2 linked regions of the Homo sapiens genome follow. The protein of the gene in region 1 purifies or fractionates together with the protein of each later gene. This does not show direct contact. Each region holds a gene or a part of one and is shown on either strand. Other genes may lie near its edges. The genes, in order: MLPH and RAB10.

Region 1 (2,903 bases):
GGGTTTTTGGCCCCCAGTAAAGTGGGTTCTTTTGGATAGAGCTGTTGGAAAGTGAAAATCCTTGGAACTTACAGAAACAATGGCTTGACATAAAATCAGTGAAACTGCAACACTGTAATGCATGGTTGGTTTGATCCCTGAGAGCTGGGAGCTACACCTGTCAAATTGTGTTTCACCCCAATAATCTGCAGTGAGGCAAGGTATCCCTTGGTGATCTGGGTGCTATATTGCAATATGTTGGATACTGGATTATCTGGGGAGTGCAATTTTGCTGCACACTCATAGCTCATTTGTAAGAAGCATCTTTGGGAGATCTGTGCATTCAACGCTTCCTAAAATTTTTTCTTTTTCCCCTTATAAATAAGACTGTTGGAGGATAAAACTTTGGAGAAATATTTTAAATGCTTGTCTCTAATCTCCCTCTGGAGTCATAGAGAAACCACTGACTTCTGTCAATCTTTAGCTGGAAACAAAGAGCCAGCAGCTGTACTGGTTGGGGTACACTAGCCTCAGGGATCCCTGACCTGCCTGTATGCAGCTTCCACTACACATCTCCAGAATAGCCATCTGCTAGGAAAGGAACTCTGAAGAATTATTTTCATTTATTTATTATTAATTTTTTTAAGAGACAAGGTCTCACTCTGTTGCCCAGGCTCGAGTATAGTGATGCGATCATGGCTCACTGCAGCCCCAACCTCCAGGGCTCAAGTGATCCTCCTGCCTCAGCCTCCTAAGTAAGTAGGTACGACTACAGGCATATACCATCATGCTTGGGTAATTTTTTTGTTTTGTTTTTTGTAGAGATGGGATCTCACTATGTTGCCCAGGAGGTCTCAAACTCCTGGCCTCAAGCAATTCTCCCACCTTGGCCTCTCAAAGGGCTGGGATTATAGGTATGAGCCACCTTACCTAGCCTGAATAATTTTTTCAAAGAATAGAATTTATAAGTAAGGCTGGGAATTATATGGAAAAACTCCCACGTTTTTATCTGATGCCACAAGGAGTCAGAGAAACAGCTGCTAATGTGTGCTCACAGGTCTCCTGAAGTTGCAGGAGTATCAGCCTCCCAGCAACACTTTGAGATTCAAACCTTAGTTTTAAGTGAGAGATTGGAAAGCTCCTGGAAGTGTCTTATTGAGAGAGGGAAGGAAACACTTAACTTGGTCAATGCTTGAAGACACAAGGCTTGACTCTTGTCTCTACTGTTTGATTCTAAAAGAAGCCACTCCTCTCAGCACCCCCTCTGACAAAGGCAGTGCAGCCATTGGGTCCTGTCTAAAGTGAACCTCAGGGAGGGTGAGATGTGATTACTGTTAGGATGTTCAAAGGCAGCTCTGGAGAGTCTTGGAGGGCTCCACTTAAAACTGGATGGGGCACACCGATACTAGGAAATAACTCTGAGTCCCAGCCTGTCTGAGAGATCATCTATGTAACCAATGGGCGAGTGGCAAGCTGACTCCTGTGGCCTCTGCACCCCCATCCTTGGCAGACATCCCTCATTGGTTGTGACCCTCTGTCCTCTGCCCCACTGGATCCACTGCAGTGAGGGGCAGAGCCAGGCTAGAACCAAGCCTCTTCCTTGCCCATCTGGAGCTCTGCCTGCTGTCTCTTCGTCTCCCAGCAGGCTCTCTGCACTAGCATCTGAGCATCTATCAAATGCTCACTTGCTGTCATGTGCAGGCTCTGCCCTTGACCGCAGTGTAATTTCCCCTGGTCTACAGATCACATGGGAACTTGCAGAGCGGGTGCACGTAGGGTGGGGACTGGGGTGTCTATTCCTCCTTCATTATTCAGCAGATCATTAGTTCAGTCACTTGTCCGGATGTCTAATATCCAGTCACACCCACAAGAAATACGCAAACATCTGCTCACACCCCGATATAGACCATCAAGAATACACATATGGCTGGTGCCTTAACTGAGTCATCTTTTTTCCATTCCATTCATGAAAGCAACATAAGAAAGCCAAGAGTGAAAGGGGTAAAAGATCACAGTATAAAGGTCTTCGGTGTGTCCTTCAAAGATTTACACAACATTGTCCTAAAGGGAAGTCACAGCAGCTTAGCTGTTTCTCACAGATCAGAGAGGATGGTGGGGCAGCCAGGAGTCATCAGTAAACCCAGGTGAGCAGTGCAGGACTGAATGTCGCTGTCCACTTGCAGGTGGGAGTCCATGTGGAGGGTGCTCCTTCTTGTTTCTCATTGGGACGGTGACTGTGTATAGTGGAAAGCACAGAGCCAATGAGGGACAGGATGGCTGTGGTGGAGGGAAAACAGTGCAGGGCTGCTCTGTCTCTCTGTCCTGTCCCGTTAGGACTGGTGGGCCACCACAGGTTTCTGTAAAGTACAAACACACATGCACATATAAGCACACACATACACAGGCATGTAACACAGACACACATGGGCATGCACATACAAATACACAGGTGTGTACATGGATGTGCACATCTGTAGACACAAATTTAGATTACACGTTTGTGCACACATGCATGTGAGGCAAGAGAATAGGGTCTGGAGGCAGGGAACCTAAGGCCAATTCGTGCTGACTTCCTAGAACTGAATCAAAATGAAAACCCCACCTCTCCATGCCTGAGGAACAAAAGGTTCAGCAGCTACTCCCTTTGCTATACCCCCTTTCCACTGCATCTCAGATGAAAATGGAAAGTACCTCGGATTGGTCCCCTCCCGCAACCAACCAGACTGGTCATCGGCCAAGTCTTCATGTGTAACTTTGTAACTTCCCTTCAGCCTCTGATTGGTTGCCTCCTGCGACTGATCACATTGGTTGGGGCCACTCCTTCATCTGCATAGAGTATAACCAAGTAACCAATGGGAAAACTCTGGAGGGCACTTAAACTCCAGAAAATGCTGTAACCAGGCTCCTGAGCCACTGGCTCTAGC
Region 2 (3,831 bases), about 210 Mb from region 1:
CCCAGCACTTTGGGAAGCTGAGGCGGGCAGATCATCTGAGGCCAGGAGTTCAAGACCAGCCTGGCCAACATGGCGAAAACCCATCTCTACTAAAAATATAAAAATTAGCTGCATGTGGTGGCACGTGCCTGTAATCTCAGCTATTCCAGAGGCTGAGGCAGGAGAATCTCTTGAACCTGGGAGGCGGAGGTTGCAGTGAGCCAAGATCGTGCCACTACACTCCAGCCTGGGCAACAGAGCGACACCCTGTTTCAAAAAAAAAAAAAAAAAAAAGACTAGGTGAAGAATTCTTAGACATAACACTAAACACATGATCTGTAAAAGAAAAAAAAATCAGTAAATTAATTAGACTTTCACAAAATTAAAAGCTTCCTCTCTACAAAATACCCTGTCAAGGGAATGAAAAGACTAGCTACAGACTTGGAGAAAATATTTACAAGCCAGTGTATCTGACAAAGGACTTCTGTATAAAAAGAACTTTCAAAAGTCAGCAGTAAAAAGACAAAAAAACTGACAATCCAGGCCAGCCACGGTGGCTCACGCCTGTAATCCCAGCACTTTGGGAGGCTGAGGCGGGCTGATCACCTGAGGTCAGGAGTTTGAGACGAGCCTGGCCAACATGGTGAAACCCCATTTCTACTAAAAATACAACCGTTGGCTGGGCGTGGTGGTGGGCGCCTGTGATCCCAGCTACTTGGGAGGCTGAGGCAGGAGAATCACTTGAACCCAGGAGGCAGAGGTTGCAGTGAGCCGAGACTGTGCCATTGCACTCCAGCCTGGGCGGCAAGATCGAAACTCTATCTCAAAAAAAAAACCCCAAAAACAAAAAACTAACAATCCAATTAGAAAATGGGCAAAAAAAAAAACCAGACATTTCACCAAAGAGGACATGTGGATGGCAAATAAACACATGAAAAAATGTTCACCATCTTAGCCACAGGGAAATACAGATTAATGTGATGATGAAATATTACTATGTGCCCTCTTAGAACTACAGAAATAAAAAAGTGACAGCATCAAATGCTGGTGAGGATGCAGAGAAACTGGATCTTTTATATGTTGCTAGTGCAAATGTCAAGTGATAGAGCCACTCTGGAAAAAGTTGGCCAGTTTCTTACCGTTATACACTTACCATATTACCCATAAATAACATTCCTGGGCATTTATTTCAAAGAAATGAAAAATTATGTCCACATAGAAACCTGTAAATGAATATTCTTCGAACTTTGTTATAGCCAAAAACTGGAAACAACCCTGAATGTCCTTCCATGGGTGAATAATTAAGCAAATTGTGATACAGACATACCATAGAATGCTACCCAGCAATGAAATGGGACAGACCAGGATTATGTGCAAAACTTGAGAGGACTTCAAGAGCATTATGGTGAAAGAAGTGTTAAATGCCGATTTCAAAAGGTAGCATACTACATGATTCCACTTACGTAACATTCTGGAAATGAAAAAAATATAAACATAGAAAACAGATTATTGATCAGAGTTTAGGGACTATGGGGAGTAAAGAGGTGATGTAATAGTTCTTTGTCTTGTGGTAGTTACACAAATCTGTACATGTAATAAATTGTAGAGAACTATATATACACACATACACAAATAAGTGCATGTAAAAAAAAAAAACCCTGAAATCTTAATAAGGTCTGTAGATTGTATCCAATGTCCATTTTCTGGTTTTGCTATTATGCTGCAGTAATATAAGATGTTATCATTAGGAAAAGCTGGGTGAAAGGTACCCAGGACCTCTCTGCACAGTTTTGTAACTTCCTGTAAGGCTGTAATTATTTCAAAATAAAAGTTTTAAAAATATTAACTCGAAAGAGGAGCAGGGATAGTTGGAGAGATACAGGGTTGAGATTGGGGTCTTTTGCTTTATATTTATTTATTTATTTATTTATTTATTTATTTATTTATTTATTTATTTTGAGACGGAGTCTCGCTCTGTCACCCAAGCTGGAGTGTAGTGGCACCATCTTGGCTCACTGCAACCTGTGCCTCCTGTGTTCAAGCAGTTCTCTTACCTCAGCCTCCCGAGCAGGTGGGATTACAGGCACGTGCCACCATGCCGGGCTAATTTTTGTATTTTTAGTAGAGATGGGGTTTCACCATGTTGGCCAAGTGTCTTGAACTCCTGACCTTAAGTGATCTACACGCCTCAGCCTCCCGAAGGGCTGGGATTACAAGTGTGAGCCACTGCGCCCGACCTTATTTTTGCTTTTTTAAAAAAGATACTAAAACATGTTTGTAAGCTGATGAGATGATCCATAAAAGAGCAAAATGATGATACAAATGAGAGGGCATAGTTACAGGAGCAAAATACATCTTACACCTTTGGCTTTAAGCATTAAATAATGGAAAATACTACTATTTACATTTCTGTCTTATTATTTATAAGTGAGGTTATCTTTACAACTTTTGGTTAATGATTCTAAATGTAAATATGACTGTACTATGGTATAGTTCTCTAATGTTCTAAAAATCCTACCTGCTTTTGTGTTACATTATGGAACTAAATTATTAAATAAAATGAAATTTTAAGAGTTTCTATGGTGTTTGCTAGTGCTTATTCAATAAACTTGAGTTTTATGTGTCACTTCCTACTGTTTTCCCTTTCAGATTTTCATCCAGTATGGGTAGGTTATTAATTTCCTTCAACTAAAAAGTTTTTATATATACTTAGGAAAAACTATTCTTGTTTTGTCCTTTATGTGAAATGTAGTAATATCAAAATGCTTAATAGAAATTATTGGCTGTTTATTTCAGGGATACAGCAGGCCAGGAGCGATTTCACACCATCACAACCTCCTACTACAGAGGCGCAATGGGTATCATGCTAGTATATGACATCACCAATGGTAAAAGTTTTGAAAACATCAGCAAATGGCTTAGAAACATAGATGAGGTAAGACCTAGAACTTGTATAAACCCTTCATGAACACACATTTGTGTGCTTGGTTAGGAAGAATAAATATTCCAACTGATCTTCAGGATATAATGTACTGTTGAAGTCATTATTATTGAAGTATTTCTATTTTCTAAAAGTTAATGTTGGCCGGGCATGGTGGCTCATGCCTGTAATCCCAGCACTTTGGGAGGCTGAGGTGGGAGGATCACCTGAGGTCAGGAGCTAAAGACCAGCCTGGCCAACATGGTGAAACCCCATCACTACTAAAAATTATAAAAATCAGCTGGGTGTGGTGATGTGCACCTGTCGTCCCAGCTACTCAAGAGTCCAAGGCAGGAGAATCTCTTGAACCTGGGAGGTAGAGGTTGCAATGAGCCAAGATTGCGCCACTGCACTCCAGCCTGGGCAACAGAGCAAGACTCCGTCTCCAAAAAAAAAAAAAAAAAAGTTAATGTTGTTATTTGCTAATTTTTTCTTAAGTTTTTGGACAGTCTATCTAGAGCCCCATTCAAGACAATTAGTAAATTACTCCAAAACTCTGTATAGCCATCTTACAAGATGACCCCAAATAGAAGCTACCAGTGATTTTACAATGATTTTCTGGAAATGAATTTTTTCTTAATAAATTTTTATTGAATGAATGAAATGTCCGGTAGTAATTTTTTAAAACTTTATTTTTCATGTTATAGAAATATAATATTGCTTCTAGGCATTTTGAAATATATGGAATACTAATATAGTAAAAACCTAACTAAGAAAATAGTTCCATTGCATGTGAAAATGTTGTTTTTTTTTCTGTATTTTGGGTTTTTTTGAGATAGAGTCTCACTTCATCACCCAGGCTGGAGTGCAGTGGCACAATCTTGGCTCACTGCAATCTCTGCTTTCTGGGTTCAAGTGATTCTAGTGTCTTA

What was found.
Region 2: the proteins of MLPH (region 1) and RAB10 purify together in Homo sapiens (affinity purification with western blotting, with the first as the bait; one study listed by BioGRID). This does not show direct contact.

The regions. Positions count from the first base shown.
Region 1 is NC_000002.12:237,552,999-237,555,901, reverse strand, and holds the end of MLPH (melanophilin), read right to left. Parts: intron 2,806-2,903; coding exon of another isoform or gene 2,779-2,805; exon of another isoform or gene 2,671-2,778; intron 2,337-2,670; coding exon 2,310-2,336; 3' UTR 580-2,309; downstream 1-579. UniProt on the Homo sapiens protein: Rab effector protein involved in melanosome transport. Serves as link between melanosome-bound RAB27A and the motor protein MYO5A.
Region 2 is NC_000002.12:26,106,993-26,110,823, forward strand, and holds part of RAB10 (ras-related protein Rab-10), read left to right. Parts: intron 1-2,775; coding exon 2,776-2,914; intron 2,915-3,831. UniProt on the Homo sapiens protein: The small GTPases Rab are key regulators of intracellular membrane trafficking, from the formation of transport vesicles to their fusion with membranes.